Homo sapiens: one gene and its partners. The protein of the gene in region 1 interacts with the protein of each later gene in a pairwise test. Each region holds a gene or a part of one and is shown on either strand. Other genes may lie near its edges. The genes, in order: PTCHD1, KLHL32, PON1 and ZNF277.

Region 1 (7,028 bases):
GAGAATCCCTCTTTGGCATGCTGTGCTGTGAGATGTGGTGAGGAGAGCCCTGAAACCAGAGCCCGCAGCCTCTCAGAACCTTTAATTCAAAAGGCACTTCCCTGGGCAGGAAGTGAAGGCTTTTTTTGTGTGCAAAGCCCCATCAGGCATGAAGAGTAGGTTCTGAGCCCAGAGGAACCACGTTGGTGTGCTGGAATGCAATGCACCCATCCCCATCCGCAGCTCTGCCTGCCTAAGAACTTTCTGCAGGTAGAGGAGCTGCATGCTCAGCAGTAGGTTGAATCCAATTGTCTGTAATGACTCAGATGGAGTCATTAAAGACCAACAAATTGGCAATATGAGTATTGAATGTAGCTTGAGCACCCATTATTGCCTGTTGGATCAAAGAAAAAAGTGGCTACATGTGTATTACTCAACAGGCAATAATGGCTTTGAAAGAGCTGGCACATGTGAGGAAATAGCAGTCATTTTCAAAGTAAATAGTAATAATGATAACACACTTTACAGAAGGCTATGGTTACACAGTGCCTTCACATACTTTATCTCATTCTATCTTTACCTTAAGTGGGTGAAAGAGATGCTATTACACCCAGTGCAAATAAGGAGCGTGTTTCTCAGGGAGGTTAGGTGACTTGCCCAAAGATACATACTTAGGAGAACTGGAACTTGAACTTGGCTTTCCTGATTCTAAATCCAGTTTTCTGTTTACAACAGTTAAATTTGAGCCTTGCTACTCCAAGTGTGTTCTGCTGATCTGTAGCATCAGCATCACCTCAGATCTTGTTAGAAATGCAGACTTGCAGTTCCCACCCCAGACCCTTTGAATCAGTCTGTATTTTAGCAAGATGCCTAGGTGACGTGTGTGCATGTTAGAAAGTCTGAGAGCAATCAAACAATCTTTACTCAGTAGGACTACTTGCCTATACCACAAGACCAAAAACAAAATCCAACAACTCAAACCTCATACAATTAAGGTATAAATATCACAAAATGTTCTTGAGCATTTATAATGACAGCTCTATAGCAGAGATGCATTATTTTTTCTTGAGACAATTAGAAAGAATTGACAAAGCCATGGTATTAGTGACAGCAGGAGAGCCTCATGGAGGAATGGGTAAAGGAATCTTTATCTTCCACGCTGAAAAATTAGCAGTTTTAGTGTTTCCATTAAACTCACAGAAATATGCTGATTTTGTACCAGTATCATTTTCTTTTAAGTTTGCCTCTTAGAACAATACTTTCTGTTCCTCTGGGCTAACTTTTAAGAAGAGTGGGACTAAGCAACATCAGAATGGTGATCTCCTGAACACTGGTGCTATGGTCAGGAAAACCACTTGTCCTTGATGTTTTCTTTTAAGTGTGTTTCCTATTTACATTTGAATATGGGTGTGGCCAATGTTTTGAGACTTTTCTTTAAGTAAATAAGGGAATGTGTAGTGTGGGGACTTGGGTTCCAGGGTGCTCACTGGGAACTGCACAGGGATCCACCCTCCCACATGGAAATGCACCACTGATTGGGGACTGAGGTCAAGTTCATACCCTCCCAAACTGTACTTGGACCAGAGAAGGTTGTCAGATATTTGGTTTTCCAAGAATTTCTCCTCATATAAATGGCAGCAGATCTGGAAACAGAATGGATGCTTATTGCTTATCAACAAGTTTGAAACCAAGATTTGTCAAAGATGAAAAATGAATATAGAGCACAAGAAATCACATGGTCATGCTACCAGGCAAAATTATATTTGACCAAAATAAATCAATAGGGAGGCAGAGCACATTTTCCATCTTACAAGCTATAAACCAGTAACAATTTATTAAGCACCTGCTGCAAACTCCACATTATGCTAGGCTCTAGGAGAGATCTGGCAGTGTCAGACATTGTTCCTGCCCCTGAAGAGTTCATTACCTCTCTTAAGAGAAACGATCACATGACAATATAGCAAATTACATAAGAGTCTACAGCTCTGCATTAAAGAATGTGTATAAGAATGAAAGCCCAATAGATTTAAGGGAGAGAAGAAGCCATGAATCTGAGAAAGCCTCATAAAGTAGAAGGCATGTGAACTGGTCCTTAAAGAGAGGAGGGAGGGCACTTTTAGGGAGAACAACAAAAGTAGATGTGTGAAGATGGGGGCCTGCAGACTTCTGTATTCATAAAGGTGAGAATGAATATGTGCCTCTCAAATGTAGAGGTCTGGCATCTAAAACCACACATCCTGTTGGTGTCTAGGCCCTGTTTGGAGTCATCTTTACCAGCATCCACTGGCACTTGTCAAACTTGGGAATAACTAAATAGCTATGCTGGATGATTCTTAACTGTAAGCTTCATGGAGACAGGGTCATAGCCATCTTGTTGAGTAAAGGGATGAATATCCATTCCCTAGAAACGGGGCACTAAATCTCTCGATGTATAACTCTAGATGAATATAAGACCCTTAGGGCAGATGCTCTCAGGGTCCCACCCATATAGTCTCAGCTCACACTCACCTCTCCATGCTAAGGTTGCTTGCCACAAACACCTGTAGCTCTGTACCCAATTCTTTTAAAAAAAAAAAAAAAAAAAAAATATATATATATATATATATATATATATATATATATATATATATAGGGAGAAACACAGCATATGAAAATGCCAGAAATTTAATGCTTCTAAATGTAGTTGAATCAGCCGATGATGGCTGGAGTTGGGGAGAAAATATTCAGCTTCTTTATCCACAACTGAGATTTCTCCAACACATTCTACAGTGTCTCCCAGAGTTCCCTAGTGAGACTGAGCCCCAGTTGCCCACAGTAGACACTTGCTTAATAATACTCTCTTGATTGGCTTCCTGCTACTCACTGTTTTACTTCCCCACTCCCCTATCAGCCTTTTCTGATATCACCTCCCAAGATAACCGACTGCACTTACATAAATCATCTTAACTGTACTTGAAGCCTATGAATTAAACCTAAAGTGGAAGACCTAACAATGGGGATCTTTCAAAATAGCAGAAACAATATTCTCAAGAGGATTTCTTAGAGAGCAAGAAGATAAAAATAGCTTTTTCTAGTTCCTCACTGCCTCCTTTTGTTCAAAATATGAATTCAGAAGTTGCAAGCACAACATATTATTCAGGGCTTCCCGTAAGAAATAACAACTGGTGTTGATTTTCTTTTTTTCCTTTTCTTGTCTTTTAAAGGTTAGCGATTACTCACCTCCCCTGCTGGTCATTAAATCAGTCTGGCAGGATTCCTCGGTAGTTCTGTGGCCTTCCGGGTATGTGGCGGAGACACAGGCAGTGCTGCAGACAGGCCTGCTTGCTGTGATGTGCTATCAAGCAGGTGACTTCAAAGGTCTGCTTTAAGCCTATCTCAAGTATCACTTGGGGCTCACACTGAGCCCCGAAATCAGGTACCAGATGGCACATCCCACAAAGTCAAAGTTGATCAGCTCACCAGCATCTCACATTTCCCTGGCTTTTGTGCCAAGGGACTGGAAACACTCAGGTAGAAAACAAATAACTTCTGTTAGCTTACTTCTCCTTCTCGTATTTTTAAGGAGTCATCAGTTCAATGCTTGACTGTCCTGTGAGCTTTATAGGTCTGGTGAATCCTGAGAGGCTCAGTTTTTGTGGTCATTTAAAATAGAATCATCCTTTCCTAACTCTAATATGGCATCTATCAAGATGCCATGAGTCATTACAAAGGTGGGCTTCCTCTCCCACTAAGGCTTTATATCTAAATTTCAGTTTAATCAAAGTTTGTCTCAAATGTGTACCTAAATGGAGAATTAAAAGACTGCTCCCCAAATCTAAATGAGACAAGTGGGCATTTTACATACTAATCGCAAAAATCAAATGTACTTAAAAGTCAGACAACCCTAGGATGAGACTGTGCTTAGATTATTCGGATACACTACCTACGAAATGAAAGGAGAATGAAAACCGATCTCAGTCTCTCCTTAATTTTCCCCTAGTACAAAAATAAAGAGTAAAAGTCAATTGACTGACCCAGCAAATACACAAATGCTGCCCTTTCAGGCCCAGGCTCAATCTTTTCTAAGAGTATCTGCCACTTGGATAACTCACCAGAAGAGACTGGACTGCCCAAGGCTTCATAGCACCTGTCACCAAACAAAGCACCCTGAGATGCTAAGAGAAGATTCTAGCATCAGCCTCTGTGGAGATGACCTTTAAGGTGCCTTCTAAACCGAAGGTTCTTTGATTCCGTGTTTCTTTGATACAAGCTCTTCTCTTGTCATTTTATACTTGGAAAAGCAGAGAGACTGGAATAGGCAACAAAGCACTGCCTCCTGCCTCCTCAGGTCGCTGCTCACAGTGGGGTCTTACACACTGTCAGAAGAAGCCCGACCTAAGTGGGCGACTGCTGCTGACTGATGCTTAAGGCATGCCAATAATGGGCACTCTAGTAATGGACAAGTCTCAAAGGCCAGTGTCAACTTAGCCCCTTCGTCATTCAAGCAGTTATACTGCATTCAGTTTCTTGGGCTCCTCTACAGCAGGTGGGATTTAGACCTGAAGGGACAGAGCCATCGAAGAGAGCAAGATAACTGCATTTTGGGGACGATTACACTGGAAAATCTGGTCTCTGCTCAACTGCCCAAGAGAGCATCACCTCAGAGGTCATAATAGTTGTCCCCAGAGTTCTATGAACTTCTCTTTGGCATTTTTTCATTTTACATAATCAAAGTAGCAAAAAAAGAATCTTTATAAAACAAAAGAAACATGCAAAGCAGAGAGTTTCTCCACCTTGGCACTATTAACATTTGGGGCTGGGTAATTTTGTTGTTGTGGGGGCTACGCTGTGCCTCTACCCACTAGATGCCAGTAGCACATGCCTCTTCCCCAAGTTGTGACAACCAAAAATGTCTCCAGCCATTGCCAGATGTCCCCTGGGTGGGTGCACAGTCAGCCCCGGTTGAGAACTACTGCCTTACAGATTCACAGTATTAACTTCTTGAAAGTGCTCTAGTAATGACATTTTAGAATACAACATAGGAACTTTGAATGTACAGATAGCAAATCTCTCGGGCTTCGCGAGCCACAATTTCTGCTATATAGCTTTCTTGGTTTTTGTTTTGTTGTGTTTATAATCTTTTAAAACTGTAAAAACTCAGTCTACGTTAAAAACTAGGCTGAAATTTGCTGATCCTTAGATTGTGGAGGAAGAAATGATGGTGATTCCCATAGTGATTGCAAGTGTTGAGACAGCATTTGGAAAAACTATGATCTTGATCTAGCTACCCAGTCTTTGTGACCCCGAGCTAGCAGTTATGCTGCCCTTCTTGGAAAGCCTGAAGTAAATAACTTAAGGTTAGATTTTATTAACCTTGTTTGCAACTTAATTCTATTTAATGTATTTAAACATAAAAGCTTTAAGTAAAACAGAAACTTGATATTTGAGCGAAATGAGATCTCCTAGTAAATGGAAGAATGTTTGCTATGTGAGGATGCGTCCTTCCCGTGGTTTGGAATAAAACATTCTGAGTTTCCCCTGAAGAAGAGGACTTTGTACAAAGGCAATTCCCCTACCCAATTTTGAAACTGAAATACGCTTTGATATGACTACGGGGGTTATCAAGGAGGGAAGAATGATATCTTGCAAACAAAGAATCCTAGTAACTGTCTGTAAAGTTGTAAAAATAAAAATTTCACTATGTAAATACATTTCAAATTCGTTTTTATGGAATTTTCTTTAACTCATCACATAAATGTCTGAGTAAACTAGGGAGGGTCTATTCAACAAGTATTTATTGAGTAGCTATTATGTGCCAGGGAGTGTGTAAGGCACTAAAGTTCAGTCAACCTGGACCCTGCCAATGAGCAGCACTCAATCAGGAAGCAGCTACATTCAATCATCCAGAGATTTTTTTTCCAAAAAAATCTTCTTTCTATCCTTGTATATTGTTAATTATAAATATCTTATGCTTTACTTTGGGTATTTGGAGTTTCTGTATGTGGATTTTAATTGACACTAGACAGAATCAGTCAAGAAAAATATTCTTATGATCCAATTACCACTATTAGAACAACTGGATGGGATGGGATATAAAACTTTGGTCAACTGTACTTCATTTGGATAACAAAAATGTACATTTTAAATCATTCCAGTAGTGTATCATATGAAAGTAAATTACAATGAAAAGCACACTGGGCTTGGAGTCCAAAACCCTGGGTCCAGTCCAGTCCTGGTTCTAGCCTTGTATTTTTTCCCATGGACAAGTCAGTTAACTTCTAAGAAGTAGTTTTCTCATATGTAAAATGGGATATAGCATTTTTCCCAATTTACTGTATTTAAACATACTGTATATTTCTAACCTATAAAGTCCTATAAAGATGATGTCATTATCATAAGTACTGGGCTGTACTGATTCTTCACTTTAAATAGATGATTCCGGAATAAATCAAGAATTGTTTTGTTAACAGCCTGGATCAATTATCAAAGGGACCTACTTACACTTCATTTTAGGTGATCGCAACGAAACGTATCTATAAAAGCTTGTGAGGCCCTCCTTTGAAATTTGCTTTGAGATGAACATCATGGATCTTCTGTTAAAAGATATAATCAGCTAAATTTAATTTTCTAGGAAAAGGAAGATGTTTGAAGAGCAGCATGTATGTAAAGAGGTTCAGAAATTACTGCATGAGCCCTTATCAGCACCACCAGGTCCTACCCACTTTTGCCTAATAATGCATCGTTGCCCTGTAGCCTTCAGGGGAAACCAACGCTGGGGGGAGTCATGCCTCACAGTGTGGGGTCAACTTCTAAGCTACAGTGGTCAGAGTATGGTAATCATATCACTTGCGCATATTCGAGAAAGCTCCTCCAAACCAGATCAGCTGGATTTTTGAAATACAGATATTTTTCTGTAATACTCTCAATTACATTTAAAAACGTCAACCTGGCTTTTCGTTTTCTGTCATCACTCCCTCCCAGTCTATTTTTTTTTTGTCAGCAAATAGTGGGACCAATATCCCAAGAAGGATCTCCTTCACTGCACAGGTACAATCCCAAAACATTAAGAG
Region 2 (7,028 bases), on another chromosome or scaffold:
CGGATCTAGCGAGTCTAAGAGGAGCTTCTGTGCTTTCTTAAGGCCTCACTGAAGAAGGTATTAAATCGTCATATCTTTAAGACTATGTAAGGGAAACCCCAGCATTCTTTTACAAGCTAGGTTTACAGCCAAAACACAAGGAATATTTATTAAAATATTTATGAGAAATTCATACAAAACTTAGAAAATGCAGTGCAAAATTTAGGAATACAGTATATTAATAATATATGAAACTAAATGAGTCAATGGAAGGAATGTCAATTGGGAGAAAACATAAATGGCATTGATTTCATAAACCCATCGTTGTTTTGCCATCCAAGACAAGTACAGATCTGTTCCTTCTGTTAGCAAAGACTTATTTGCTGCCTAGCTTGAAATTTCTCCAGCACAGCTAAAAGAATATAGTCTTGGTGGTTATTAACTGTTGAAATATACATTTAAAGAAAAAGGAACAGTAATTAGATAAATGAGGTTTTAATTTAAATATATCTACATATACTAACATACATACTTGTTTCTAATGTTTCTTTGGTATAGAGCCAGTAAATGTTGGGTCCACTTCATCTGTCTGCTTCCTTAGTCCTAGTCTTCCCTTCATTCATTAATTTATTGAGCACTTAAACCCTGATGTGAGCTAGGTTCTGTCAATAAAACTCAGTGAATTGCCAATAACTGAGGCACCGCTCAGAGAAGCTGAGCCTGTGACTATCTTCCTGGTTATTGAGGACAGCAGAAGAACAGTCAAAGTCCAAATGAATTTAAAGAAGTGCAAGGGAGAATTTTGTCAGAGCAGGTGTTAGAACACTAGAGACGATTATTGAGGAAAGCTGAGAAGCCTTTGCAGGTGTACTTAAAAGTAATGATTTCTTCTAAGTACAAACATCAGGGTTATTCTTAATATTTAAGTTTTTTACCCTTTCTATTCCTCTTAGTGCTTGATGACACAGAAATCCAACAAGTTCCATTTGGATTACAATATGAGTATCTTCCAACTGGGAGAAAATGCAGCTTTCTTCCTGATAGAAAAACCTTTCAAAGGAGAACACTTAGGGCCTTTCTCAAAACTAAGATTGAAAACACATGTTTATAATGTGATGTTGATAGCATATGCCTCACAGACTCCTTCTGTATAAGCAAAAAGGCAGCCCAGAGGGGTGTGATGGGTCTGTGGGTGTAGAGAAAACAAGATTGGCAAGGAGTAGTTAATTGTGGATTTTGGGTTGTGGGTACATGGGGTTCATTATTCTAGTCTCCCTACTTTTTCCATAATCAAAAGGTTTTCAAAAGAGATGAAAAGGTAAACTAGAGCTCAAACTGTACCATCAGTAAAAATAGGAGAGTAAATAGGAATGAAGGGTTAGAATGGCACAAGTAACTACCATTCACGGATAATTAAAAACAAACAAACTTTGTTTTAGGCTGGGCACAGTGGCTCACGCCTGCAATCCCAACACTTTGGGAGGCCAAGACTGGTGGATTGCTTGAGCTCAGGAGTTCAAGGGCAGCCTGGGCAATGTAGTGAAACCCTGCCTTGACAAAAATTACAAAAATTAGCTGGGTGTGGTGGTGTGCTCCTGTAGTCCCAGCTATTTGGGAAGCTGAGGTGGGAGGATCACTTGAGCCTGAGAGGTGGAGGTTGCAGTGAGTCGAGATGGCACCACTGCACTCCAGCCTGGGTAACAAGAGTGAGACCCTATCTGAAACAGCAACAACAACAACTTTGTTTTGGTAACTTAAATCCCTTCTCTCAATGCACAGCATAGTGATTACTTGGATATATACCTATTGATATACCCAGAAAAATGGATTAACTGGGCTTATACTTCTCTTGCCTTGTCTTTGATGAAATGGCTCTAGTCAGGTAGCCAGGGGTGAAAGAAAAAGCAAAGGACCTAGATAAACCACAAGCTGTGCAATACAATCCATGAATAATCAAGAGCTGACAGGAGAAGTTCTGGTAGGAAAAAAACAGTTGTGATGGACCAACAATTTCCACCTTGAATTTTTATTCCATTAGTCACTCAGAAAGTCACAGAAAGGCATATTATTTCCAATTACATTGCTCTCTAGAGTAGGTGCTCAATAAATGAATGTTAATTAGCTAAAATGGCATGCTTGGTTCAATCTTTCAATTACACATGGCCACAGTATTAAAGCTTGACTTTTAAATATATACCACAATGAAAGTGTGTTTTGATAAATCCAACATGAGGTATGTTCTACCTGATATCCAAAGAAGACCATCAGCCACATATCCAGCATGGCATGAAAGGGATCTGTCAAAGGACTGAACAAAAGTCCATTTGTTCTTCTTGGGGCAATATCGCTCAACTGTAGGCAGAACCTGGCGCAGTTCATTTCTGCCCCCAACTGCATAGAGGTATTCCTCCATGGCACCCAGCACAAAATGCTCCCGGCAGTTTTTCATGGGTGCTATCTCTGCCCAGGAATTACTGCGGGGGTCATAGCGACAGGCAGTCCTCACAGCACACGTCCGGCCACTGGCATGCTCAACTTCCCCTCCTGCCACAAACAGGAAGTCCCCCATGACTGCCACACAATGGTGGCTCCTTCCCACAGGCATGGGAGCCAGCTCACTCCAGTTGGCAATGGCAGCTATGAGAGCATTCTCCTGATCAACAGGATTGAAGTACCGAAGTTCCTTGACCTTGCAGACCTCGCGCTTTTTCCCACCAATGATATACAGAGTGTCTGACTGGAATCGTGGTTTGGTCCTGCGAGTCTGCCAGACAGGCTGTGCATAGATGCTCTGGTGGTATTCCAGGGCCTCGTTGACAAGGGCTGTTGCAGTCTCACTTGCTTGGACAAGGGGGTGGGACAGGGCAACTGTATGGAGAGTATCCACATCCATTAGGCCAAAGCGGATGTATTGCAGGAGCTCGTCCATGTACTGGTAGTGGCAGTTGTGTTCCAACCACCTCACAGCTAGCTGAAACAGAGGGAAGTGAGATGAGAGGAGACACAAAGGTAAGAAAGAAAGAGAAAGCAACAGCATATAGGTAGGTTACCTGTATTCTTCCAGGCAGGTAATAATACAAACTTTCTTACAAACAGTATAACTGGAATATTTTGAAGCCCATGTGAGGAACTTTTTTTCCGTCTCAGCAAAGACACAAAAGCACTCAAGACATTGCTGTAGGGGTAAGAAACAATGTGAAGCAACACTGATGGGGGCTTCAGATACCATTTGGGGTGAACAGTAATTGATTTTCAAAGAATGAAAATGCTGTTGTGAAACAGCCTGTTCCCTTATGTTTCATGCATAAGAGGCTCAGTACACCCCACCACCAGGAAATGTCAATGGTGGGAGGTGTCATCAAAGCTCAGGTAATATATGTCAACCCATAAGCCAAGGTGCTGTATCAATATGAGTAACGTAAGAAAATATGTGATCATCTGAGACCACAGGGTGTACTTGAGAGAAAGTCAACATAACACTAGCAGAATGATTTAGAAAGAAAAAAGACTCCCCCTCCCACCCCACATCCCTTTAGTAGGTATAACAGTCAGGAAGCAAGAAAAGAAAAAATAAGATTCTAACCTATTAATTTTTTCTCTCAATTAACTTTTACCTTGAAGACAGTTGTAATTTGCACATGTAAGATACTGGAAATTTGTTAGAGTCGTTTGCACAAAAACAGAATATAGAGGAGATCATCTTTGTATTATGAACATAATAGCAGAATGTAATCCTAACCTTTTTATTCCTTTCAGATCTCTTCTAAGAAGGAAAGGAGTTATAACATTTTGATATGAGCAAAGAGAATTTCTTAAAACTAAAGCAGGTACATTGTCATACATAATAAAAATTATTGTTTAATTTTGTTATAATAATTTTATAAATAAAATTATATATTTATTATTAAATAATAAAGAATATTGTTTCATTTTGTTATTTATGATAATGTACCTGCTTTAGTTTTAAGAAATTCTCCTTTTTTTTTTTAAAATTAAAAAAATTCATCAGGGCCAGGCATGGTGGCTCACGCCTGTAATCCCAGCACTTTGGGAGGCCTAGGCAGGCAGATCAAGAGGTCAAGGGTTTGAGTCCAGCCTGGCCAACATGGTGAAACCCTGTCTTTACTAAGACTACAAAAATTAGCTGGGCGTGGTGGCACGTGCCTGTAGTCCCAGCTACTCGGGAGGCTGAGGCAGGAGAATTGCTTGAACCCGGGAGGTGGAGCTTACAGTGAGCTGAGATCCCACCATTGCACTCCAGCCTGGGCAACAGAGCAAGACTCCATCTCAGGAAAAAAAAAAAATCATCAATGAAAAAACCACAATTCATTTATGGAGCACCTAAAGTAATTTAATTAGTGTGACTTAATAGTTAAGTTTGGCAAACCTTCCCACACACCAGCATAATGAAGTATATCTAACATCTCAGTCAACATATTTGATATGAATTATTCTTAGCAGCACTTACATTAAAGTAGATCTCCCAGACAATGTGAATGTGAGTCTGAAGGAATTAGCAGGAAAGAATGAAGCAAAGAAATAGAATATTAAATAATTTTGATAGGGACAGGAGGCAGGAAATTCTGGGCAGAAGAAGATGGGTCCCCACTGAGGGCCCCACCCTCAAGCCTGGCACCGCAGCCCAAAGTGAGAACATACATTCCTGTTTCATGCTGGAATGTTGACTTTTCCAAAACCACCCATGATCCACCCCACCCCCCCATCCTGTACCCATAAAAACCCCTGACACAGCCAGCAGAGAGGAGAAGTGACTGAACATCAAGAGGAGAAGCAGCAGCTAAATGTCAGAGACTATAGTTGGAGAGAAGTGGCTTGACTTCAGAGGGACAGCTTGACAGCATAGCTTCAGAGAGGAGTCCAACAGGGGATGGCCAGACTTCAGGGGAAGATTACCTTCCCACCCCATCCCCTTTCCAGCTCCCCTTTCTACTAAGAGTCACTTTCATTGGCAATAAAATCCCCCACATTTACCGTCTTCATCTTGTTTGTGTGACTTCATTCCTCCTGAACGCCAGACAAGAACTCAGGTGCCAAGAGGGTGACCCTCCACTGAGCTGTTAATATTTAAGCCATCCACAGATGGCAAAGATAAAAGAAGGTGTACCATAACACTCCTTCTGGAGCTTTGGGGGCTACAGGCACTCCCCACTAGATGCTGTGGTGGGGCCTGCACAGAGTTTTGCTCCTGCCAGTGCCCAAAAGCACTTGCCAGGTCCTGCACTCACTCACCTGCATGTTCCGTCCCATGAGGGGTTGGGTGCAGCGGGTTCGAGTGAGTGAAGTTTACCTCTGCTGGCACTGAAGCGGCTGGCTAGCCCCAGCACCCGCATTCCAGTTCCCGCCCGTGAAGGGGTCAGGGAATCTGGAGGCCCGCCCAGGATCTTCCTCTGGGAGCCTGCCTAGGATACATCAGAAGGGTGAGTAAAATGCAGATCTGTCTCTTCTTGTCCTCAGACTTTCTTCTGAGCTATGCCTCTTGCAGGGGACAGGATGCAACACTGCCATCTCTCTCTTTCCTGCAGGTGAAAGGAATGTTGGCTCTGTTTCCCTTCATGGAGGCTTAGCCACCATGTGGGACCAGAATAAAGTCCTGGGGCAACTGAAGGCATCTGGCCAAGGCCACTCCTCAGTGTTGCTGGAAGGCCCCTGGACTGGACCCAGTCCCAGATGTAACAGGTGGTTGGCTAAGACCCCCCCCCCCCAAGACTTTTCTGTGGTATCTTTCCTTTCTTCCTTTGTGGTTTGAAATGGCTCCTTATCTGTTCTTTTATAATGTTAAGGTTTTGCTACAAACTTCAGAAATGTTACTAAGTAGAATAAGCATTTGGCCCAGCAATCAGATAAGCAATTCAGAACAATGTGAATTGCCACAACCATCCCCACACCAACAGCAGCAGGCTTCTGTTTTGAGTTTGCCCCTGCCGGCACCGAAATAGCCAGCTAGCTCCATTGCCCGTGCTCCGGTTCCCGCCTGCAAAGCTGTCAAGGAAAATATCCTGCTTCAATTTTATCGTGCTTTACTTCCTTTTTGAACCATGGAATCAGGATTCTGGGCTTCCCTGTTCAGATAACAGATTTTACTGGGGGATCAGGGGAAATGTACTGAGGGAGGGAAGAGGAAATGTGGTATTCTCAGACCACTGCTCCTTGGCAAACACAAACTGGGTTTTCAACCCGGTGAAAAGAATCACTAAACTCTCTAAGGCACTAGATGATTTCAGACATTCAGAGTTTCTGCATCCAGTTGAAAAAGGGCTCCAGAAAGGCAAGATGCATTTTGGGCTTGTCTTTTTAGTTTTCTGAATGAAGTGAACGTGGAAGTGAATTCACTTCTGCTACGTCATGAATTGCATCTCTTAATGAGTGACAGAGTGAGAGAAATGAAAAAGGAAATGTCGCTAGGTGCCAAGGAGGCAGACACGGTAGAGGTCAAACAAGCGATACACTCTAGATGCTTTTATAGAAGGTAGCATTTTTAACTAAATAAGATACCAACCTGACAAAAAATTATCTATGTATGGTAATATCTGCAATAATCAAAGATATTGCAAAAGAAATGAGTGATATGGAAAAATGGTACTCATCAATCACCAGGTCTCTGCCAGAAGTGGAGACAGTTCCCACATGCTGCACCCTAGATTTTCTCTACCCTAATCTTGGAATTTTCAAGACACGGGGTTCCAATTATTTCTGGGGAGATTGTTCAGCAACTTGATAAATAATTTTCCACTCTTTGCCCACAGTGTTTTTAAAAGTTCTCAGGGATAAAGTCATCCAGCTCAAGGTCATTTCTTATGCACCAGGGAAAAATTTCTGAAACGTAATATTTGCTATTGTTCCTAATTTAGTCAAGTAATTCTAGCTGATATTGCTTTGCTCTGCAACCAATTTCTTGGCATTCTTATATCCTTACAGTTCTGCATCCACATAGATACTACCGGAAACAGCACTAGAGACATTAGATAAATATCCATGTCTCCATAGGCTCTTTTTATAGCATAGTGCTGCCCATTTAATTATTTTTCTCT
Region 3 (7,028 bases), on another chromosome or scaffold:
AAGTCCAGAAGAGGAACTGAATGAGGGATCGTCTGATGATGAAATGGAGGTAATGGGTATAAACGTGGTTCTTAACCCTAGCCTGACATTTTTATCAACTGAAAAACTTTTAACAACTACTGTGATCCAGGCCTCCCTCAGACTAACGGAATTGGAATCTGTCAAGCTGGGGGCTGGGCATCGAGTCTTTTTAAACTCTTCAGGTGCTACCATTGTGCAACTGGGGCTGAAAATTAATACAGAGACAAGGAAGTGACAGCAAATGGAAAGGGAGAAAGGGAGTAAAGACATAAAGGATGACACCAAGTTATGTTGAAAGGGACCAACATGCAGAGGAGCATTTTGAACACAGAACAGAGGAACCAGCGGACAGGAGGCATTGAAGATAATGGGACCGGCAGAAAGCTGACCATGGTGACTTTCTGTCACTGGACCTATAGCTTACAGATGCCTTGGGTTAGAAAAATCTGTTCCTGTAAATGCCCGAGTCTTGAAAATCGTTTAAAATGGAAAAGCTATAATGATCAGGGCTGGATATTATTATTATGGTAATTATAGGGATAATGTGAATGTTAGTATTTTACAAAATTAGATGCTTTACAAATCTTAAATATTTTAGCATTCTCAAGTATTTAAGTGGTTTTACTATAAAGTTCAATTAACATAGAGGGTAAGTTTAAAACCCAGAGTAAGAACATTATTCATGACTATGCTTTGTTTGAATGAGAAAAAATAATTCATTTATTGGCATGTTTTTCTGTTTTTGTTTTAAGTTTGGTTTTGGTTTTAATAAATAGTAAATATTGTTACCTTCATCTGTGAATGTGCTAATCCCATGAGGGTTAAATGAAGATACATCAAATTTACTTCCAGTGATCCCCAATTCCAACACTGTTGGATCTTCTTCATTCAGGTCCATCAGAAGTATTTTTCCAGGACTGTTGGGGTTGAAGCTCTTTATTCCAGGATACTTTAATCCCTTATAAACCATGGAGGAGAAAAATCAAGCACAATACCAGTACTTCAAATGCTAATAGAGGCGCTGCATGGCCCATGGGTTCATGTTGACTGCTCCAAACCACAGGGCTAGCCAGATGGCCACATAGGAAGCCTCTTAGTTAGCTTCTGTAATGGGTCCCCAGGAGAAGTCTTCTGGAAGCCACATGCTCCACTAGGCCACCCCACACAAACCCTTTCATCCCCTGCAGCAAAGTCATATGTGCACGACACTACAGCTTCCAGCCCATGAGAAAGATCAAAAATGGAAGAGCAGACCAAAAAGGCAATTAATAATAGTCTTCAATGATATAAGCAAGGAATACAGAGAGAATATTGCTTATGGCTTTTAAACTGTTCCCTGGTAGGTCCTTGGAAGCATCTCAAAGACAGAGTTTTGGTGGGCCAGAGGAACTACTCCTTTCTTAGCCTTCAATCAAAACAATAAAGCTGTTGTTTTATATATTGTGTTCCCATATAAGATTTTGCTTGAAATACACCTTATGTTGCTCAAGAAAGTTTGCAAGACATTGCTTTGCAGGATGACTAGTCTATCATCTTTGTAAGAGAAAACTGGACTAAGTAAATTACAAGGGGTAGCAAAGGTTTTTAAATGGCTGGATGATTGTCTGTCGTTTCCTATCAACTCTGTTATGTTATGATCCCTAGGCCAGATGGTGGACTTCTTTTGTTTTGCACTATATCAGCTACCATAGCGATCTATATGCAGGACAGTTTCAGCAAATATGGTGGATTCTGTCTTCAAAGCTTGGGAATTGGGAATTGGGACCTATCAACAATTTTAAATTAAAGGGCTTATTCTGAAATTTGTTTAAAAATGTGAAAGTTGAAATGACCTGTGAAGTAGTATACATTAAATGTATATTTAATTTAGCAAATATTTGAATATGGCAATTTTAAGTGCTTAGGGAATAGACAATTGAGAGGAAAACAATTCTTGAATACACTGAACTCACAAAAAAATTGCTGCAATAGAAGCTAACGTAATATGGTTCAATGTAGACCGAAGAACACAAATATGCATAGAACACGCATGATCATAATTATAGCACAAGTGTAAATGCATACACAATTTGTCTTTTAAACCATGACTGTTCATTTTATTTGAAAGTGGGCATGGGTATACAGAAAGCCTAAGTGAAAGACTTAAACTGCCAGTCCTAGAAAACGTTCTAGAACACAGAAAAGTGAAAGAAAACACTCACAGAGCTAATGAAAGCCAGTCCATTAGGCAGTATCTCCAAGTCTTCAGAGCCAGTTTCTGCCAGAAAAGAGAACAGAAAGTACAGGTTGTTTCATATTATTGCAGGATGTGGATCCATTTCTTTATCACACCTCACTTGAAACTGGGGCTATACATCACTCTTCTTTAATAGGTTCAGAATAATTCATTCTTTCATTTATTCAAATTGATGAATGCGATTATATGGAAATTAAAAATATATTAATTCATTAACAAGTTTAATTAAAATTTACACTTAGTATATTTGTTTTAAATTGATGGACTAGAGCTTTTTCCTCAAAGACTGAATCCTCTTAAAGTTCATGGAAATTCACAAAACGTACAAAAGCCATGATTATTTGAAAAGAACTTGTTTTCTAAAGATACAAGGTAAATTACAAATATATGTTGATACTTAATACTTCCAAATCAATTAAACCCTTGGAAAGCCATATTGAAGATATAAGCAAATTCCAAATAGTTGAGTTAAAATGGGGATACATTTTAGGTGATCAAGAATATGAATTTTTACTACTAATTATAAACATCGGTTAAATATTACTGTCTTCAAGTTAGTTATACTTTAAGTACATGTAAATTTTTAACATTTCAATTTATCTAGAGAAAAATGAACTATTTGATAGGTATTTCTACACTTAGTGGAAAGTTTGCTTTTCAAAAACCCAGTGATATTTGATATCAATATCATATTTTTCTAGAAAACAATCGCACCATAAGATATCTAGTGAAATTTAGTGGTACTAAGTCATCTGATCTAGCCTCCTGAGCCTTAATCAACTGAGATGAATAATTCTAAAAGAACAAAAAAAAAAAAAAAAAAAAGAAAGAAAAAGAAACACCCAAAGCACACAAAAGCATGATCTCAAACCAATTGTCTTCAAATAACAAAGCTGGTTGGTTGGAACCAGCTGGAGAGTTGAGCCCGGGGACTCTCCTTGTTGGTTGCCTCCCAGCTGCTATTCTCCTACCGTTTTATCTTTGCTGACAGGGCCTGCCTCCCACATTGGAGGCTTGATAATTACTTTCCCAGCATCCTTTGCAACTAGGGCACCAGCCTGTCCTCCAGCTCTGACAAATAAGATCTAAGGGGAAATCTGCTGAGAGCTTCTGGAAAAAATTTTCCTGTCCAATATCAAAAGAGAGATGCATAAGGAGAAGCCTTGTGGTAATTGCAAAGTCCTGTCAGAGCCTTTCTAAAAAAAAGTTACCTTTATTCAATGCTTTATCTGGCTCTCCCTCCCCTCTTCTGCCATCTCCTCAGGTTAGATTGCCATGGAATCAAACATTATTCTATTTTTCTTTTTTCTTTTTTTCTTTTTTTTTTTTTTGCTCTATTGATCAAACAAAAACAAACAACCAAAACTCCCAACACCTTGGCAGTATGTTGGTGAAGTCAAAAGTCAAACAACATGGTATTTATCATTAACTACCACTGACTCTCCTGATTCAAAATTTTATTTTTGGACAGAATTGAACAGGCACATTAATCACACAAAGAGCAAAAAAATACCGGAAGTTCAAATGAGACCCTTCTTCCTCTCACATACATACCGATTCCTTTAACTAAATTACAGTTAGGAAGTTCTACGGGTTGTACCTCTCGGAGAGCATTAAGTCGTGTTCTGTGGGGGAGAAAGAAATAAAACACACACAAAACTATTCAGAAATTATAATAAGTTGCAAAGGTAGGCAGTCCACAAAAGTTCTCCTTCACTGTACTTTGCCTGAGTTTCAACTCCAGAGTTTTTCCTGCAATTTTTCCAGGCAAGGCCAGGGCAAGACAAGTGGGGAACTCTGGGTACAATATTTAGTTTTTATTTAGCAGAGGTGGATAGGTACACATAAGAGATACATAATATCCTCTCTAGGGCTCTGTGTACTTTGGCAGGAACAGGAGCAATTTCATCAGTGTGTAAGGACTCCTAGGTGGAAAGTCCGGGTAAATGGCAACATGGTTCCAGTTTATTCCATTGATGTTTTAGAGTTGCTGACAGATGGGCAGCCTCCTACTCATCTGCCCAATCTGACTCCGCAGCCTGGACTGGGCATCTGCTTTGTGATGTAGTGCTTGAAAAATACAGGTACGTTGAAAGGATTTGTAACTTCAGAAAATCATACACAAGGCCTGCATGTAAAAAGGCATTTCACACACACAGGTGCACTCACACACATACACAGGAGCGACTTATTAGATATGAGTGCATAAACACCATAGAAAATGTCTGAGTAAAGGACAAAGGAAAAATGAACAGATGTGAGAAGGAAGTGCCAGCCGGCTGCCTGAGCAGAGCGAAGCTACTGATGCTGCATTTGAAAGAAACAGACGACGTTAGCACAACCAAGAGATTTAAACAATAAACTTTTTTTTTTTTTTTTAGAGAACTAGTGATACAGTATTGTCATAGCAAGTAGTGACAATTATCCAAATATCCCTAGAAATCTTATTTGGCTTCAGATAGGCTAAGAAATTTACTTGTCCTCCTGATGACTTGAACTCACAGGAGGCGGATGGGCTACAGGCGGAACAGACACGCTAGATAAAATTCTTACCGACGTGGTACAAAATGATAGGAATTTGGGGGTGATTGATCTTTCATTTATTCATTCAGAAAAAAATGAGTACATTCCTACCATCAGGCCACTGGCTATCATTTTCGCTGTCTAAAAAAATCTGACGTAAGAGGCAAGGAGTGCCTCTTAATAATCTGCTTTGTAAAAGTGCCACAGTTTGTCCCAACGTATAACCAGAGTAAAGAGCCACCAGTCTAGGTACTAGAAATACAGAGATGAATGAATAGATGATGAAGGCTTGGACTGTGAGGAGACTGTGGTTTCCTGATTGATAGATGTGAACTTAGAAAGCAGGCTTCAAAGGAAAGTTGGAATCTGTCCCATAACCTAAGAAAGGGAAAGGTATTTTCAAAATGAAAATCTGACATTATAATTGCAAATATTGACAATAAGGAAATAAAAGGGGAAGTGATAAAGCAGTGGCTTACAAACTTTTCAGACAGAGACTCACAGTAGGAAAAGTATTTTATATGGTGCGAACACCCAGCACATGCACACACATACACATACACATCTGAATCAAGCTTCACAAAACAATACTCATCCTAATCTGTGTCATACATTCATAACTTTTCTGTTCAATTCTGTTTTATTTATTTTTAAATGTTGGTAATTATTTACTAAATTGACTTTGTTACCCACCATTTGAAAAAACTCTGGTCTAGGGAAAGTGTAGTGAATATTTGTAGCATGCCCTCAAGGAACCAAAGGGCAGGTACAAGATGTTAAGGGTGATGGTCATAACCGAGGACAACACAAAGACTGGCATGGAAGGAGAGATTCAAGGACATAAAATCACTGAATGGGCCAAGACTTGTGAAAAACACCAAGGATAGTCAAATTCACTTTTCTTAGACTCAAAACCAATGGGAAGAATACTCATGCTGCCTGACTCACAAGGGTCACTAAACATATGGGTTCACAAAAGATGGAGAAAGGCAGAACTGGTCAGCTCCTATTCTAATTCAGGCTTCTCTCTCATAGAAGATGATCTCTAGCCTGGAAAACATAGAATAATCACAGTTAAAGGGAGCCCAGGGTGGGCAAGGGGGCATTAAGTCAGCACTTGTTGATTTGGGTTCCAATTTGTGGCCCAAACATGTCATATCTCAACAGGATAATCATTACTACTATAGTTCAGGTACCGTATATGCCCGCGTTTAATCCTCAAACACCTCCGTGAGGTGTTATTTTCCCTAAGTTATAGTTGACCAAGATTAAGTGGCTTTCTAAGGCCACAGAGTTATAAAGTGGCTGAGCAGGGATTGGAATTCAAGTATGAACACAAAGCTCACATTTAGCTCTCTGACCAGGCAAAATCTACAGAGAACACTGCTTAAAAGCTGGAAGATGCACCTGAAAATTGACCCACCTGTGTTATTATCATCCAACTCATATTTTTTCTACCTCATTTTCAATTTATTAGGAAATATCTTGTCAAAGGCTTAAGTCCAAATGTTCTGGGCCTAAGAGATAAGGGTCAATGTCTGAGATATATCTCTGATTCACTAGACTCTGAACTCTGCGCAGAAACCATACAGCCTTTGCTGTGAACTTGTCTGAGTCTGCTTTGTGTCACTCTAAAGGAACATCTGAGGCTAAGCAACTGATAAAGAAAAAAGGTTTATTTGGCTTATGATTCTGGATGGTTAGAAAGTTCAGGATTGGGTATCTGCATCTGGTGAGGGGCTCTGGCTGCTTCCACTCATTGCAGAAGATGAAGAGAAGCCAGTACTCACAGAGATCATGGGATGAGAGAGAATGTAAGAGAGGGGAGAGGTACCAGGCTCTTTTCAATCAACCAGCTCTCTCGAAATGAATAGAGTGAGAATTCACTCACTCCCAAGGAGGTCATTAATCTATTCATGAGGGATCCATCTTCATGACCCAAACACCTCCCATTGGGCCCCACCTCCAACATTAGAGATCAAATACGAGGTTTGGAGAGGACGAACATCCAAACCAAGGCAGAAGTATTCGGTGAAAATACATGCTGGCTGCTCGCAGAAAAAAGCAGAGATCTTTGCCTAGGCATTAAGAAATCCGTATCGATTCTCAAACTCTTCTTGGGGCCAAATTCACTCTAATCAGTCTATTTTCTGCTACTACACACGCCTCATTCATTCAAATTGCTTTTCATGGCCTACTATGTGCCAAGCTCCAATAAGGGCTCTCACACATACTTCCTCATTTAATC
Region 4 (7,028 bases), on another chromosome or scaffold:
GGTTCAAAATACTGCTTTGTTTCAAAGCATACAGTTTAGATGTATCTTCACTGATGATGGGAACATTTTCATTTTGTTCCTGAGCTGTCAGGTCACTTTCACTGTCAGATAGTGTACACAGGAGAGTGTCATTTTCATAGGTTGGAAAATAATACCTGAAAACAACCACAGATACATAGTATTAAATTACCAAGCTAATACAGTGTCCAGGTAGCTGAATGTACACATTTACTATAATTTTGTCAGGTATCCTTGCCAACAATTTCATAGCATTTTGCAAAGGCTATACTGGAGACAACTTCTGATTGCTTTCACTTTGACTTTTACTGGCTGACATCAACCTTACCAAATCTACTATCCAGATTTGGTAAACCAAGATCGTGGACCTCCCACCCTCCAGAGTTGCCTCTGGAGTTGTCCGCTGGCCACTTAGCCTCTGCTTGATCATCTATCATGATAACAAAACACACTATCTTCGAAGGTAGCTGACCCCAGTAGTGGGTAGATCTAGTTGTTTGATACACCTCCTGTGAAGCTAAAAATGACATCTTTCTCATTTCTACTCAAAGGTCCTAGTTCTTCCTTATAAGTTAACAAACTTCAAATATAGTTAATTTTTCAAACACAAATTATTCAAATAATTGAGAATAATAAGCTCTTCCTTGTGTTTTGTTTTCCAGCCTAATAGTTCCTTCTTTCTAGGTAATCACAAAAGGAAACACTTACGGAATATAAAGTTTGTTATTCTGGTTCCTTCTCTGAATACATTTTGAAGTTACTTTTGGAATATTACAAATTTTAATTTATATAAGAAGGATCATAAAAACAGGGTACCCTCACAAGTGTGGGATTTTCTGAAGGAGAAAAACTAGAACTTTCTGGTTAAAGTTCTGGGGGAACTGACTTAACATTCCCTAAGAACAGAAGGAGCTCTGGGCAGCTAGAACCCCACAGTCTCTCAGAGGAGCCCTCGACTGAGGTTATCCAGAACGATGTGAGAACCAGTCCAGAAGGTTCTTGGCAAAGGATACTTGGGAACCAGTCCACAAAGTTCTGGCAAAGGATACATGGGAATCCAACAACAGATGACCAACTGCTTAATTTTTTCAAGTGCCAATATACAAAATATATACAAAAAGTCCTAGCAGTGTGCAAACTCTGACATAGTAATTTTATTTCTAGGAGTTCAGCTTAATTAAATAATTAGATAAGTGTGCTAAAATGTAGGCATATAGATTCACTGTATCATTATAATAGCAAAAAGTAAGAAACAACCTAAGTATCTCGCAGAATAGATTATATCCATACAATGGATATTTAGCAACCATTAGAAAGGATGCAACAGATGGATACTGGCTATTGAAAGATATTTACAATATTTTGTTAATAAAATATAATTTAAAAAATCTGTATCTACTTCATCTCTCTACATATGTATCTATCTCCATATCACAAATACTGAAAAATACTTGGTTTCATTTGTAAGAGGGGGATTATTTTAAAAATAAGCATTTTGAATATTTTTACATTTTTCCCCACACTGTACTGATGTATACTTTTTATAATAAATATGTATTCCTTTTTTTTCTGTAGGCTTAAAGAAATTAAATAAAGGGACAAAATCAAAGAGTTGGAGTAAGAAGTGCACATTTGGTTTTGCAGTACGTACTCCAGTTGATCCCACGTCTTTCTATCGGGGAGCAGCGAAGTGTGTTTAGTTTCTTCCATGTGAGTTCTTAAGTCTGCTTTGGATTTGAACTTCACATGGCAGCCATAACATCTGCATTGGTGAACTTGCCTCCGAATAAAATTGACCAGTTTCACTTGCTGATAGAAATTTAATCCTGAAAATGACAAAATACAGAATCATTAGACAACTGTTCAGACCCATTTTTTGCACTATTATAATTTCTTAAAGGAGCCACTTATTTTTATTAATCAACCTGAAGAGGCAGTACAATTATAAAGCATAATAATAGATACCAAATAATAACAGCACATATTTACACAGGGCTTATGAGCTAGGCACTATTCTAATAATTTTCCATGTATTAATACATTTAATCTTCATAAAACCCTATCAGATAGGTAGTATCATACCTACATTACATATTAGGAAACTGCCTAGCATCGCATAGATAGCTGTCAGCTGCAAAGCCCATGCTTGACTACTAAGCTAATTATATAAACAATGTATATATATGTCTATAAAAGCAGCAAAGTAACACATCCAAGGACCTAGGAAAGCAGTGACTGAGCTGAGCTGTGAGAAGTAAGTTTTTTACTGTCTTAGATCTATTAGCAAGTCAGTACTTTACGTATGTCTTAATGCCCCAAATCGTTCTATTGTTGTGATACTTAGAATGATACATTGGGTACACCTATAACAAACAATCCTAGCTATACTGCTAAGCAGTGCAGTAGCCATTTACCATACATTATTCACTCCTCATAACATTTTTCTGACCTGAGGCCCAATGTCATAGCCAGTAAGTGCCAGAGCTGGAATCTGAACTCTAGTTTGACTTAAAAATCCATATTCCACTAGCCCCCTCCAATTTATGATATATTATTAACCACTAACTTATATTTCACTTGAAGCACTCATATATGTAGGAAAGAGAAAGAAGGAGTATATGAAACCAAAAACCATATTTGACTATTATGGTTGAGCATCACTGCTTCACAGAGAGTTCTGTCAAGACCATCTATAGAGAGACATGTTTTGGTGGTGCACTCTCCAATCATAGCTACTGAACATAGGCATAGCTTACAGGATGGTTTATAAAAAATGAAGCATCACAGAAAAAAACCTCTGAATCAAACTTACCAAGTTCTGACTTTATTTTGAGAAGATCAAATTCGTGTGCATCCTAAAAAAGGAATGAATACATCTGTAAGCATATGAATTATTTAATCTTTCAGGCTGAAGTTATAAACAACTTATTCACAGGAGTTTGAGTAGTTTAGAAACTCAGTCTGAGTTCGGTATCTTCTGCTTTTGAAGTCTTCCAAGTCTAACTACTTCCCTCCATACCCAACTTTTTTACAGCATAGTCCAAACAAGTCATGTCAATCAGTTAAACCATTATAATTGGGCCGGGCGCGGTGGCTCACGCCTATAATCCCAGCACTTTGGGAGACCGAGGTGGGCGGATCACCCGAGGTCAGGAGTTTGAGACCAGCCTGGCCAACATGGCAAAACCCCGTCTCTACTAAAAATACAAAAATTGGCTGGGTGTGGTGGTGGGTGCCTGTAATCCCAGCTACTCAGAAGGCTGAGGCACGAGAATCGCTTGAACCTAGCAGGCAGAGGTTGCAGTGAGCTGAGATCGTGACACTGCACTCCAGCCTGGGTGACACAGCGAGACTCCATATCAAAGAACAGCAACAACATTATAATTGCTCATAGCTTATATCTATAGTTTTTATAATTTACAATGTTATCCATTTTGTAGCCTTCTAAAAATGTAGAAGTCTATGTATGCATTCTGCAGTGTGATAAAAGTGTAGGTAAGATATGTTTCTATTGTACTGTGCATTTGGACTAGAATTATGGATATAGGTTCTTTGCCCCACATAGGTAATTTTTACAAATTCTGCTTTTCATTTTATGCTGTCAAATACACTGTTTAAACCTCAAAGCTTCTCTTCACTCACACCTTCCTATAAATCACGCTTTCTTTTGATTTTTACAATGCACTTATTTTTTGCGTGTTTGTTTGACACCTGCAATTGTCTGTGTAAATGTTTTAACCTACAATCTCACAGATGATAAAGACCATTTAACTCACTGGGATGGCATTTAGTGTAGCACCATATGAAGGATGATTAGGAATTCGTGATGTTATCACTGAAAGTGACCCAGCAGAGGTTAAGGACACCTGTCAAGGATGCCGAAAAGGTAATCCTTACACAGGATAGGCATACTAAGGCTGCCTTCAATACAAAGACATTAAGATATTATGAATTAAATCTAAACACAGGAAATTATACACACATACTAGTGGGAACCTTTTTCAGAGAAACTAAAATCAAGGAAAATGTTTATGGTCTTTTGAGCGCTTTCTAGGCCCTTATTTTACTAAACTAAGAACAGTATTTCTGAATAAGGGTGAGGTGAAAGTGGGTGAAAGTAGAGAATATGGTCCACTATTGGCAGAGGTGGCTGCAGGGAGGGGACGGAGAGATATCAGAATCATCCAGTAATATTTTTCTATTATAATCACCCCTCTGCCCACAAGCTGTGATACTATCATGAATCATTACATGTTCCCCTTCCCTATCCGCCTTGTGCAGCTAAGGATCAGAGGTGCAGGGTGTGTGTCCTCTCTCAGGTATACTGGGGTGAAAAAGGTTTAGAACTGCTAGCTCCAAGCTTCACTATAACATAAAAATGGCATCCAGAAGGGAAAGCCCACACTAGGAATGCTCCCTAGTTTCTTCTCTCTAAATCCTGGCACCTGAAGGAACTGTAGGATCATGCCCTAGCTCCTCTCTACCCACCCTCCTTTTTCCCTATTCCTCCGGGACCTTTGTAAATGGCAATGTTCTCCCTTCTTGCTCTCCTATTCACCAGCACAAGAAGCACTGGAAAAAAGACTCAGAACCTGTCCCACCTGCTGAGCTAGAATGATCTTGTAAGCATCTCAAAGGTGAGATGGCATCAGTGGTCTGAGAAATCTCACACTAACAAACAGCTCACTCGGGTCCAGTCAACTGTACTAACTAAATTGCCCTGAGCTCTGGTTCTCCCTGACAGACCTGGCCTGTCTCTTCTGGTTGGAATAATGATTGGGAAACTGAAGTAAAAGCAGATGAGGGTGCAACAATTACTAGCTTTCCCCTGTCAGAATAAAACAAAATTCAAATAAATACAGGTATCTTACCTCCATGTGGACATACAACTTCTCAATTGTTTCTGCTTGCTTTTCACAAAATAAGCAGACTGCAGAGGCAGGGTGTTCTTCCCAATCAGACCAGTCACTGAATTAAAAAAGAGGAGAGAAAATACGGAGATTCCCTTCATTAAGAGAGTATACTACACAGTGACTTGGTATTGCTTTCTCCTTACTAAAAAACCCTGCCAATCTCTTTCAACTCTGACATTTTGGTAAAGACTGTCACATCATATTATGACTCTCTGATATAGCTTTTGAAATTCAAAGCAGCACCATGAAATTAATATACATAGTGAACAGGTGCTGTTCCATTTTCTCCTATTTGCCGTTCTTCTGAGTAGCTATCTCAGTCTACAGTCAGAGGAATGTCGTCCTGAGACAATGAGGTTTAATTTGCAAAGGAGACATATCAGAAAATGTGATGCTCTCTCCCATTAACCACAACCACTGAGTGCACACGCTGTGAGGTGTGATGCCGGGAATGTGTTTCTGCATGACAAATAGTGTATTTTACAAAGGCAAACCGTGTCTCTTTCACGAGGGAAATACTGATTATTTTAAACTGGGCAAGTGTTAAATCTGGCGGTAGACAGGGAACTCAAAAAGGATACAGGATCCCTTTTACCACTTTCCCCGCTCCTTGGCATTTCCCTTTTTGAAATACTACCAACTTCTTATCATTCCCAAACCAGGAAAACTGCCAGGAGGGAAGAGTTGTGGAGACAAGGAACACCCATTCAAATTCAGATGAGAGAATTTTTCATGGCAAGCTCAGAAATGATCACTGATAAGACTCTCAAGATCAACCTAACCCAATTCACACAGAAGCTTCCCTATTAGAAAACAGGAAACATTTTCCTTAACTCTATCCATCCAGGAGGGAGCCACCAGTCCCGGCCCAGGTCATGACTTACTATTTATAACCTTTTGTGTCATTAAAACTTTAACATTCACTGATTAAATATTCCAACTAGTATGTCTTAATGGGAAAGATGTTTTTATTTCAGTCTGGAAGACTCTCTGCCTGAATCTCTATGCATCAAGAAAATTCAGCAAATGGCAGCTCTCTACCTTTGGGCTTTACCTCACTATTAAAATAATAATAATTTAAAATCCTGAGAGAGAAAAAAGGCCAAAAAGCTTTGACTGAAAAGAAGATGAAAAATAAGAAATCCTTTTAGGTTGAAAAGAACATTTCTCAAGCTTATAATTTCAAGCAAAGAAGCTGTGAATGTTTAAAGTTAGTCATCAATGGCCCGAACACAGAACAGGATTAACTTCAATGCAGTTATATTCTCTATTCCAATGACAGCAACATGGAGAGTTCAAAGATCACATCACTTCAAGGTCTGAGCACTAACTGAGCAGGCAAAGCACTTCGGAATGTATTTTTCTCTGAATTATATATTACTTGTGTGTTCAATCAATAGCTTTAATTTAGTTGGAATAACAGTGTCTTTAGGAATTTTTATGTCAAAGTTATTTTGAATTCAAGTTTTTGCCACATTACATGAAGGGATGCATGGCTCAGAGAAGGTATTTTTTTCTTCTTATGTTCCCGCTTCATAATTTAAACCAAACTAAAGCATTGTCTTCTTACTCTTGGAACACTGCAATTAATTAGCAGCAATAACAACTCTTACTCTTCCTGATGGTCCAGCAACTCCCGATCATCTTCCAACTGAACTTCTTCCCACGATTTTCCAAGTTCCTTTGTAGGAAGAACAGAGGGATGAGAGACATTGGGGGAAAGAGAAGGGAGAGAGTATGTAGAACTTTGAAAAAAATCAAAACCAAAAAAATAAACAAAACCACCCATGTTTAAATGGTTTTGAAACAGTACAAGTAGGATATACAGATGGCCCAACTTATGATGGTTTGATTCAACACTTTTTTTTGACTTAATGACAGTGCAAAAGCAATATGAAGTTGAAACCTTAATGAGATAATTTTTTAGAGAAGCAGCAATATCCTTTCAGTCAAGTTCTTTTCTCTTAAATTTGAACCAGTGTTTCTAAACCCTGAATGAGTATTAGAATATCTGGGATTCTAATGGCCTTTGTTCATTGTTACATTTCCAGAGCCTGGCATACAGTGGGTACTATTACTATAAACTATTTTTTGAGT

The links.
Region 2: the proteins of PTCHD1 (region 1) and KLHL32 interact in a two-hybrid assay, tested with the Homo sapiens proteins (one study listed by BioGRID and IntAct).
Region 3: the proteins of PTCHD1 (region 1) and PON1 interact in a two-hybrid assay, tested with the Homo sapiens proteins (one study listed by BioGRID and IntAct).
Region 4: the proteins of PTCHD1 (region 1) and ZNF277 interact in a two-hybrid assay, tested with the Homo sapiens proteins (one study listed by BioGRID and IntAct).

Annotation. Positions count from the first base shown.
Region 1 is NC_000023.11:23,337,849-23,344,876, reverse strand, and holds part of PTCHD1 (patched domain-containing protein 1), read right to left. Parts: intron 1-7,028. UniProt on the Homo sapiens protein: Required for the development and function of the thalamic reticular nucleus (TRN), a part of the thalamus that is critical for thalamocortical transmission, generation of sleep rhythms, sensorimotor processing and attention. Can bind cholesterol in vitro.
Region 2 is NC_000006.12:97,109,705-97,116,732, reverse strand, and holds part of KLHL32 (kelch-like protein 32), read right to left. Parts: intron 2,951-7,028; coding exon 2,224-2,950; coding exon of another isoform or gene 2,165-2,223; exon of another isoform or gene 1,990-2,164; intron 1-1,989.
Region 3 is NC_000007.14:95,314,512-95,321,539, forward strand, and holds part of PON1 (serum paraoxonase/arylesterase 1), read right to left. Parts: intron 3,883-7,028; coding exon 3,812-3,882; intron 2,279-3,811; coding exon 2,223-2,278; intron 980-2,222; coding exon 811-979; intron 1-810. UniProt on the Homo sapiens protein: Hydrolyzes the toxic metabolites of a variety of organophosphorus insecticides. Capable of hydrolyzing a broad spectrum of organophosphate substrates and lactones, and a number of aromatic carboxylic acid esters.
Region 4 is NC_000007.14:112,335,688-112,342,715, reverse strand, and holds part of ZNF277 (zinc finger protein 277), read right to left. Parts: intron 6,613-7,028; coding exon 6,545-6,612; intron 4,987-6,544; coding exon 4,890-4,986; intron 2,874-4,889; coding exon 2,831-2,873; intron 1,845-2,830; coding exon 1,670-1,844; intron 1,662-1,669; exon of another isoform or gene 1,594-1,661; intron 156-1,593; coding exon 1-155. UniProt on the Homo sapiens protein: Probable transcription factor. Involved in modulation of cellular senescence; represses transcription of the tumor suppressor gene INK4A/ARF, perhaps acting via the Polycomb group (PcG) complex PRC1.